2 separate regions of the Homo sapiens genome follow, and region 1 is linked to region 2. Evidence: fine-mapped expression QTL. A gene starts in region 2. The other region holds a variant in brackets. All regions are shown on one strand. Distances are from middle to middle.

Region 1 (5,385 bases), 670 kb after region 2:
CTCTTCTTTCTTCCCTCCTGCCCTGGCTCTATCTCTCATGTACCATATGGATCTTCCAACCTGTACACCCACACTCTTACTGCGTGGCTTGCAAAAGCTACCCCGCATCATGGCCACACCTTCAGCCTCAGTGAAAGGGAATGCACATGGCCAGCCAGCACAATTTGTTTTTTAGAAGATGGACCCAGTAGAAGGCCCATGTAGACCTTGGAAATGAGCAGGGTGTTCTGGGGTCCTAGTTACCCAGAAAGGAGCATGGGAACACAGGTCAGAGGGAACACGCACTTTTGCAGAGCTCTCAAAAGTGTGGGGTTAGAGCAAGAGCTTCTCTGGCCCAGGTCTAAGGATGGAACCAATTATGTAATTCCAGTTTCCCCGATTAGCTCTAATACTTATTTTTACTGTTGGTTTATTCAAATCAGGACCCACACACTGCATTTTGGTTAATATATCTCTTATGTTTCTCTTATTCTACATTTTTGATTTATTGATGAAAGCAGGTCATTTAACACTAAAATGAGCCATAATCTAGATGAAACAGATTGTTTTCTTGTGGTGTCACTTAATATGCCTGTGTTTCTTGTATTTCTTGTGAACTGGCGAGTAGAGCTAGAGGCTTGATCACATTAGAAGGTGATCTCTGGATGTCCTACTTTTAGTAATGCTAAGATTGCTTAGTGGTTCAGGTGTCAGACTTGTTCCTCTGTCATAAAGTTCTTCATTGGTATTTACCCTGATGATTTGGGGGTTCATTAATGATTCTTTCTTAGAGTCATTATTTCATTAGGGGTTACAAAATGGTGATTTCCTAATTTTGTCATTCCATCTGCATTTAGTAGTTCTCTAAAGAAGAACTGCCTCATATACCAGTTCATTTAGTTCATGAAGGAAAGGAAAGATGAAATTTGGATTCTTAAACTTTTACTAGTTTTCAGAATAATGAGTTGATGACTGAGCTTTCTCTAGTGATAACAATGGTAACCAACAGTTTATTTTTAGTGTTATTATGGATACTTATATATTTGGTTCCAATCCATTGCCACCATTATTCTCTTTGCTTGAATTGGCCAAATTAGGTCGATGGTGGCTGTTTTTGGTAGAGGATCCTGTTAGTTTTTCTTTCCTACTTTCTGGCTCAGTGAAATGGCTCAAGTTATCTTGTATTTATTTTTCTGGCCAAACTTACAATTTGACATTTTTCTTTTCTTTTCTTTTTCTTTCTTTTTTTTGAGATGGAGTCTCGTTCTGTCTCGCAGGCTGGAGTGCTGGAGTGCAGTGGCGTGATCTCGGCTCATTTCAACCTCCGCCTCCTAGGTTCAAGTGATTCTTGTGCCTCGGCCTCCCAAGTAGCTGGAATTATAGGCATGTTCCACCACGCCCAGCTAATTTTTGTATTTTTTAGTAGAGATAGGGTTTCGCCATGTTGGCCAGGCGGGTCTTGAATTCCTGGCCTCAAGTGATCTGCTTGCCTTGGCCTCCTAAAGTGCTGGGATTACAGGCGTGAGCCACTGCACCTGGACACAATTTGACATTTTTCTAAGGGGGACTGGCTCCTTTTAGTCACAAATGGTATTTAGAGACAGTGGCAATGCTAAGATCTTAACTGCTGCTGGATTGCCGTTCCTTCTGGGCCTTTCTCAGTGCAACAGAGCTACCTGTATGCACACATTTGTGTGTGTGTGTGTGTATTATGAGTTCTTACTAATACTTTAAATTCAAATTTAAGATTATAAGGTTTCTACTCAATTTTTAAATTTTATATGTATATCTGTTTTCTTATGCTGAAAACCTTAGCTCCTACTTACATAAGAGTGCATCTTAAATTGTGATGTGTGTGAAAGTCATTTGGGGTAAAATCGGACATTTTTTGACCTCACATAGGTCTTCTCAGTTCACATTTATTGGGTTATGACCCAAGAATTTGCTGTTTTAACAGGTGCCCCAAATGATACTGACCGAAAGGCCAGGAATTATCCTTTGTGAAACTATTCTATAAGAACTATTGAGGTATTAGAGTGGTGGGTATTTTTAATCCAACACTTTGACTTTTCTCAAGTAATGGTTTCTTTAACACATATCAGCAAAACTGTGAATTCTGGAGAAGTATTGTGGAATGTTGGAGGAGCACAGGAGCTAGTCACAAGTCCAGAGTTTGAGTTCTGGCCCTGTTGCTGGCTAACTTTAGGACCTTTGGGAAAAAAAATCCTATAACCTTTCTAAGCTTTAGTTTCCCCACCAGAAAATAGGTACAATAATGCCTGCCTACCGCAGAATTTTTATGGAGACCAAAAGTGAAAGTACTTTGTAAAATGTCAAGTGAATTACAGATACTGCATTTTGGGGGGTCAGCTAGTCTTTCTTATAATAAGCTTTAAGCAATGTCATGCTTTATTTCAAAAGGCAATAATCTTTCTTTCTTTCAATAACCTCCCAGTAAAGTAAGTTTACCTAAAGTATTTTTCTTATTTCTAGGAATGAAGGATATATCCCAAGTAATTACGTAACGGGAAAGAAATCAAACAACTTAGATCAATATGAGTAAGTAAATGTTTATTTTGTGAATGTGGAAAATCAGAAACTTTTCATTTTCCTAATTATGTAAGGCATTTTGAAGATTAATGGATATCTTTCATGATTCTTTGAAGGGGGTGCTAAAATATCCTTAACTCAATTGCCTGATGTGGTAAAAGACTGAGAATTAATCTCTATAATATATTTTTCCTGAAGGTACTGTGTGAATGGAGTTACATAGGCTTATGTACATAAATTACATAAGCATAATTGAATTGATTTGAAATAAATCACAGATTAGCTGACTTTGAAATACAGATCATGTCCATTCATTCAGGACATAAGCAGAACAGTTTCCAGAGTGGAAATGTTAATAAGAAAAAATTACTGAAATTAATTAGAGTTGACCTTTGTCAGCATTAGTATATTTCCTTTCAATCTTTTTACTATTTTTGAAAAGATAGAATCATGCTTATTTCCTCATACACTTTAATATTCTTTGAAAACATTTTCCTAGCTACATTTTATTTCATTTGATCATAAATTTATTAAATATTTACTGAGATCTTAGCATGTATCAAGCATTATGTATGGCCTTAGAGACATAACCAGGCAGATGGCAC[G/A]TGGATGTCCAATAATTTATGTAATCATTTCCTTATTTGTGTGGTTTAGGTTGTTTTAGGTACCTTTGCTATATTAAAAAAAAAATGGGATAACGTCTTGTTTCTTATCTTAAACTGGATCTCTAAAATCTATGTGCTGGGCTACAGGCTGTACGTGAACATTGTTAGGGTTCCCAACGCATGCTGTCAAATTGCTTTCCAGATAACTTGTATTATTTATATACCCACTAGCAGTGTGTGGCCAAGTTGTAACGTGAGGCTCATATACATTGAACGCTCTTTTATGGTCATTCTGAGGTGGTGTATTGATGCTTCATTCACTTCCTTGAAAACAATAGCAACAACAAGCTGTTCCTCTCTTCATGTCACTTGCTATACCATAAGTGTACCTTAACATCTAGGAAAGGGTTAACAAGTTCAAAAAGCCACAGCGCTCAGTGGATGTGATCTCTCAAAGTAATTTTAGAAGTAGAAGAGAGTATAAACAATGTATAAATAAAGTAGCATTTCTGCCCTTAAGTCAAATAGATTTTTGGAAAAATTATAAAATCCTTAGAATTAGGGAAGGTGCTAAAAGGTGAAAACTTGGGCCTGGTTTTAAAGCGATAGCGTGGAGAACTGATTGAATTTGGGGAAAGAGGATGCTTGGAAGCCAGATAATCCTTATCTAAATATGAGAACTCCTTTTATGACTCATGTGATTTCAGTTGAGGTTTTTCAATATTGAAGTTTATGATTCATGGCCTCGAGTGTTTCAAATGTACCTTAATTTGGAAATTTTCTCTCTTCCAAGAAATTTTCTTCCTCTGCATAACTCTGTACTTCAGCCTCCAGCGTGGGAGTGCCACTGCATTCTGTTCAGAGGCCAGGGAATCCACATGGCCTTTGTACCATGCCCAGTAGATGACCAAGGGGAAACCTGTTCCCATGTGGGCAGGCAGAGACCCTATTCTGTCTTCCTACTCCATGTTCTGTTTTGTTTTGTTTTGGCCAAAGCCCACCCTGTAACACAATTGTATTAGTCAGGGTTCTCTAGAGGGACAGAACTAATAGGATAGATGTATATATAAAAGGGAGTTTATTAAGGAGTACTGACTCACGATCACAAGCTGAGGTCCCATAATAGGCCGTCTGCAAGCTGAGGGGAAAGGAAGGCAGTCTGAGTCCCAAAGCTGAAGAACTTGGAGTCCAATGTTCGAGGGCAGGAAGCATCCAGTACGGGAGAAGGATGTAGGCCAGAAGACTAAACCAGTCTAGTCTTTCCAAGTTCTTCTGCCTGCTTTTATTCTGGTTGTGCTGGCAGCTGATTAGATTGTGCCCATCCAGATTGAGGGTGGGTCTGCCTTTCCCAGTCCACTGACCCAAATGTTAATCTCCTTTGGCAACACCGTCATGGACACACCCAGGAGCGATACTTTGCATCTTTCAATCCAATCAAGTTGACACTCAATATTAACCATCACAACAACTTAAATGTTCTCAAGTATTAAAAAAAAAAAAAAAAAAAGCCTCTGGCAGCTGTGGAGTGAATAGTTCTCTTTGCTTGGGCCCAGGAGGAATCCCAGGCCACAGACTGTCACTGGGCTGAACTCAGGATTTCCAGGCCCGCAGCTCCTAGTGTTATCAGTAACCTAGTTCTAACTTCCATACCCAGTCAACAGTGTAGGGAGGAGAAGATCGGAGAGATCAGTGCTGGAAAAGAAAGCAGATTCGTTGTGATGGTTAATAACAGGATGTTCTTGGTGGAAAGATGGTAAAGGGAGAAGGTGACAGAAATGAAAGCGCCCTTAGGACTGGAAAAAGCTTAGGATAAAGGCTTTGAGTGGGTGGCATAGTTAGAAGGGCAGAATTAGAGAACAAGCTAAGATGTATAACTGGTTGGTTTTATGTTTTTCCTTTGTTCTACCTCTTGTCTTCTTTTCATGATTTATTCTCACCCATTCTCACCAAGAAGCTTGGCAAGGGTCTGACCTTTCCGGGTTAAAAGATGAAATGCCCTCAAACCTCTTCTTTCCTTATTGACACTGCTATTTTGGGGTAACTAGCTAATCTGAAAAACTAATTCACATTAGGGATTTAATATCTAAGAAGAATCTGACAAATGACCTACAAATTCAGGGCCTAATTTCTAGATGTATAGTTCCTTCATCAAAAGGTATTAGCCTCTAATAAAGCTTTTCTGTGGCATGCTTTTTTTTTTTAAATCCCTACTTTTCAACCCGCTGCTTTTGAATTAATTCCTTCCTCCCTT
Region 2 (5,385 bases):
TTACCTCATGGTTTTGTTAAAAATCTGGAAATAATTACTTTAAAATGTGTGCAATTCCTTTATCTCCTTAATCTCTTTTAACAACAACCACACTATGCAAAAAGTTTGCCAATTTGTTCTATACGGAGTTATTATAATTTCAGGTTCAAATTCAAGTCAAAATTTCAGGTACAAATTTTGGATCAAATTATATTAATTAGAAAATTGAACTCACATCTGAACCAGAAGCTTTCATCATTGCATTCTGCGAAGACTCTCCTTTCTTCCTCTGTTGGAATGTAATCAGGCCCTATGTCTTTTTACCAGGGAAAATCAGAAAACATTAAATTATCCATAATAAAACTAGGTCTGAAAAATTATCTTAGCCTAAACATTAACAAGAGGCACCCATTTTTTAAACTCAAATAATAAAACAACTGGCTTATGCACTTTTTTTGTTTTTTGAGACAGTGTTTCACTCTTGTTGCCCAGGCTGGAGTGCAATGGCGCGATCTCGGCTCACTGCAACCTCCACCTCCCGGGGTTCAAGCGATTCTCCTGCCTCAGCCTTCCGAGTAGCTGGGATTACAGGCACCCATCACCACGCCAGGCTAATTTTTTGTATTTTAGTAGATACGGGGTTTCACCATGTTAGCCAGGCTAGTCTCGAACTCCTGACCTCAGGTGTTCCACCCATCTCAGCCTCCCAAAGTGCTGGGATTACAGGCATGAGCCACCGAGCCAGGCCACTTATACACTTTCAACAAACTTTGACTTCAAATAGAATTAATGCTACTATCTGCTAGTCAGGACTGGCTACCTAATGTGCTGGGCCCAGTGCAAAATAAAAACGTGGGACTCCTTATCCAAATGATTATGAATTTCAAGATAACAAGACTAGAACATGAAACCAAGTATGGGGCGCTGTCTGCACATGCCCATGAAGCCAGCCCACCTGCCACTGTTACTCAAGGCAGTGAAAATTCCTTTACATAGGAAGTGCTTCTAATTATAAATACTTAATAGATAGTTACGGGGAATTGGTCTTGGAACCTCTGCATTCGGCTCTCGAAAATCAGCCCTCCCATTCATCTTTCCTGTATCAAAAACATTACATATTAAGTATTAGAAACTATCACTAGATAGGTCAAAGTAAATCAAGACGTATGATATAGTAAAACTACTAGTCTACACAGCAATCAATCAACAAATATTTATTAAACACTACTATATCTTACGTACTCCACATGTAAATAGCTAGATGAAAAAGTAACAGACCTACTGATTAATTTGGAACTCACTATTCAGGTTAAGTCCCTTAATTGAAAAAGCATATGCGTTTTATAAGTTTATAATTTTTTTTACTATCAAGATATCAATAAAATAACAGACATATTTTTTCCTCCTGGAAGTGGGTTCTTTCACATCCTATGTTTTGGTCGTTTCTCGAATCTATGCCCAATGATTAGGATAATTCCCCAAAATAGAAGAGAAAAAAAATTTCAAGTCATTTCTGAGCTTCCATATTAAAAAATGAAATAATCATCAGAAACATTCAACCTCTCCCACAAAGGAGCACTCCAAAATTATGGAATAACAAAGACGACATATCCTTCTCCCTGTGAGGTAAAACTAACAGCAAATTCTGTATCTCCAAATTTCCTTCCACCCCAAGAATATAAGAAAAAAATGCATAAAATTCCAAGAATATACATTTTTTATTTGGTTCTTTTTTTAAAAACTCATATATTGGGACTCAGACCAACAGATCAAGTAACCGTATTTTACAGAACGTTTACGTGGGATCATGATTATTCTCATTTTAAAAACAATTTGCATGGAAACAGGAAATGGCATACACAATGAGGACAGCAACTGAGCCCTTCCATAATTCATTCAGTCAATAAGCCATGAAGGCCTACTACATGCCAACCCCTTAATTAGAGAAAAGAAATAAAAAAGGTCAGCTGAATTCATGGATGGATGGAGCCTGCTGAATAAACTACCTTTACCCTACAACCGTATGAGAAAAAATGAAACCCTCTTATTTCCCATAACGGCATCCTTCCTAGAAACACCAGGAAGACTGTCAGGGCTGACACGGCGCTTAAGACAATACCATTTTAAGTTCTTTACACAAAACAACGCTGGATTAAAGCCTAAGCGGCCTACAACCGCTGATTACCGCACTCCATCCTCCACCCAGTGTCCGTCTCCCACCTGCCGTTACAGACTGAGCAGCAACCCCACACGCATCCGTGACCACGAACTTCCCCAGCTCACACCCCCAGAAGCACTCCGTCGCCTCCCGCAGTCACCGGCACTCAGGAGGCCGAGACCCGAGCGCGATCTGTCCACCCTCACAGGCAGGAAAATGGCGGAAGGTGCGAAAGTCGTGGATGGCCGCAAAGGTGGTGAGGGGATACGCGGAGGGCAACAACGGGGCTGTTTGCGTCACCTCACCCACCTCCCGACGACAGCAGCAGGCGACTGCAAGGAAAACCAAGCGATCAGGGGCAGAAGGCCCGGAGGGTGGACTCGAGAGGGGGCAGGGAGGGAGAAAAGTGCAAGGTACCGCGGGGAGGGGGAGGGGTAGAACAGCCGCAAGAAGTCATCCAGACAGGGGCTCAAAATGACCGCGACCCGGAGGCACTGTATACTTACGGCAGGAAATGACGTCAGACCTCACTGCGGGTCTGAGAGCCAGCAGCCTAGGAATAGACGCATGCGTATACTCGTCCCTTTGCCCTTTCAGGCAGCTGCGGCCACGAGCCGCACTGCGACTGCGCAGGCGACAGCGGCGGACCAAGAACCCTGCCCCGCCCCTTCCCTGGATGGCGGGGAAGGGGGTTGGGAGTAGGCTTGACTTTGGGCTGTTGTGATGCACCTCTCTGGTCTTCTCGTGGCGGCTGGCGGGAACGTTCCGGAACCCTCTGTTGTCCCTCTTTTGAGAGCGACTTTATAAATTATCTCTTTTATGAGATAATTTCATTCTTTGAGCCTGTAGGCTAAGTAGTAGAAAGTAATTTTTAAGCATGCATACCTGGTTATTTGTCACACCCTCTTGATCCAAGTTTCCAACAAGTTCTACAACCTCTGGCAGGGTACCGTGATCTCTCTGAGGCTACGGTTTTTCTCACCTGAAAAGTGGAATTACATATAGGGTTGTTAGAATTAAAACAACACATCACTGTCTATTAATGAGGGGGCTCACGACTTCTACACATCAGACATGGTGCTGCCACACCCAGCCAATCAGCATTTTACTCATTTTCATACATTCCTTCCTGAAGTATTTATTAGTGCCATGTACTGCAAGTTATTAGTGACTAAACAGTGGGCAAATCCAGTCCTACTATTTGTCAACCCCTCAAAGCCTCTCAGGTTTCTCATCTCTTTCTGAGCCCCTTTGCCACTTTATCATTTAACATTTATTCTCCCGAAGACATACTTAAGGGAGACAGTCACGTGAAACGAATCCAACGCTGTGTTTCCTTCCTTGGAGTCTTTTGATAGCTCCAGTCATGCACCGAATATAAGGCCCATCATGGCCTGGTGGTGCCTGTGCCTTTTGAGCGTCACTTTCTTCTATTTCAGGGTTCACTAACAAGAAACAGCCTGGAGGTCTTTGCCCTCAGTGTTCTCTGTGCACTGTTTCCCCAGTACAACTCTACTCCCTGCTTTGTCAATTCTAACGATATTTCAAAATTCTGCTTTTACATCACCACCTTTGTGATGCCTTCCCTGAAATACACCCCAGAGAAGTAATCACTCTTCCTTCTTAGTCCTTAGCTTGTCCATACTGCTGTCACTGCAATGTACTTTTGCACTGAATAGTGATCTTTTTTACTTACGTCTGTCTCTGTTACAGAGCTCCTTTAGGACAGAGATGTTGGCTTGTAAGTCTTTATAGAACCAAATAAATCCCTGAGATAATCAGTATTAGTAACTAATACTCATTTTGTTCCTGGGACAAGCTAATTTACTTCTGGGCCCAGGGCTTGTGCAATTGCTGTTCCCTCTTCTAGACCACTGTTCTTCCAGATGTTCAACGTGGCTTTTTGTCTGAGACTTCAGTTGATGTCACCACATCAGAGAGGCATTCCTTGACCACCCAATTAACATGGCACCCCAGTCACTCTCCATGTTACCTTGCTTATTGTTTTCATAGTATTTGTTATGGTCTAAAACAATGATTTGTTTGTGTATTGTCTCTCTTCACTAAAAAGGTCTATGACAGTAGGAGCCGTATTTGCCTAGCATCAGTGATTGGCACATGATCATATGAAGCCAACAAATATTTCTTAAATGAATTTGTTGAATGCATTTTTATAGGAGAAAAAACAAAAATAAGAAAATTAAAAGACATTCTAGAAGAAACAAAAATAAAAAAATTAGAAGACATTCTAGGTGGTGAGCTTTATGTTAAAGCAAAGTTTTTTGTTGTTTTTTTTTTTAGGACAGGGCCTTGCTCTATTGTCTAGACCGTAGTACAGTGGTGCCATCTCGGCTCACTGCAACCTTCGCCTCCCAGATTCAAGCAATTCTTGTGCCTCAGCCTCCTGAGTAGCTGGGACCACAGGTGTGCACCACCACGCCCAGCTAATTTTTTTATTTGTAGAAGAGACAGAGTTTCACTACTTTACCAGCCTGGTCTCCAATTCCTGGCCTCAAGTGATCTGCCCACTTTGGCCTCCCGAAGTGCTGGGGTTATAGGCATGAGCCACTGCACCAACTTTAAAGCAAAGTCTTTTTCTTTGCTTCCTGACTAGATTGTAAGATTCCAGAATCCAGTTTTATCATATTCTTTATACTTACTGAGCCAGGCCTAACACATAGTGTGTCCTAAATTGGTGGGTTCTTGGTCTCACTGACTTCAAGAATGAAGCTGCGGACCCTCACGGTGAGCGTTACAGTTCTTAAAGATGGTGTGTCCAGACTTTGTTCCTTCTGATGTTCGGACATGCTCGGAGTTTATTCCTTCTGGTGGGTTCGTGGTCTTGCTGGCTTCAGGAGTGAAGCTGCAGACCTTCGCAGTGAGTGTTACAGCTCTTAAGGCGGTGCATCTGGAGTTGTTCATTCCTCCCGTCTGGAGTTGTTAATCCCTCCAGGTGGGTTCATGGTCTCACTGGCCTCAGGAGTGAAGTTGCAGACCTTCACAGTGAGTGTTACAGCTCATAAAGGTGGTGCAGACCCAAAGAGTGAGCAGCAGCAAGATTTATTGCAAAGAGCAAAAGAACAAAGCTTCCACAGTGTGGAAGGGGACCTGAGTGGGTTGCCGCTGCTGGCTCAAGAGGCCTGCTTTTATTCCCTTATCTGGCCCCACACACATCCTGCTGATTGGTCCATTGTACAGAGAGTTGATTGGTCCATTGTACAGAGAGCTGATTGGTCAATTTTGACAGG

Direction of the effects. Positions count from the first base shown, and alleles are read on the strand shown. Sizes are in standard deviations (SD) of each study's normalised expression.
For the expression in spleen of the gene that starts at base 2,608 in region 2, A is the low allele of the variant in region 1 and G is the other (large effect, 1.1 SD a copy in GTEx).

The links.
Region 1: its variant is fine-mapped to the expression of OCIAD1 in spleen (GTEx, PIP 0.95).

Annotation. Positions count from the first base shown.
Region 1 is chr4:48,160,855-48,166,239 of GRCh38, reverse strand. TEC (tec protein tyrosine kinase) reads left to right here. Exons shown (of 18, transcript NM_003215.3): 8 at 2,473-2,538. Among named protein-coding and RNA genes, the nearest start is that of TXK, 29 kb to the right of the region's middle. The variant G/A (reference allele first, on the strand shown) is at 3,135.
Region 2 is chr4:48,828,311-48,833,695 of GRCh38, reverse strand. It overlaps OCIAD1 (OCIA domain containing 1), which reads right to left and starts at 2,608. Exons shown (of 9, transcript NM_017830.4): 1 at 2,447-2,608; 2 at 1,014-1,076; 3 at 215-295. The coding sequence starts at 1,071. RefSeq lists enhancers at 1,692-2,254, 2,255-2,818, 2,661-3,040.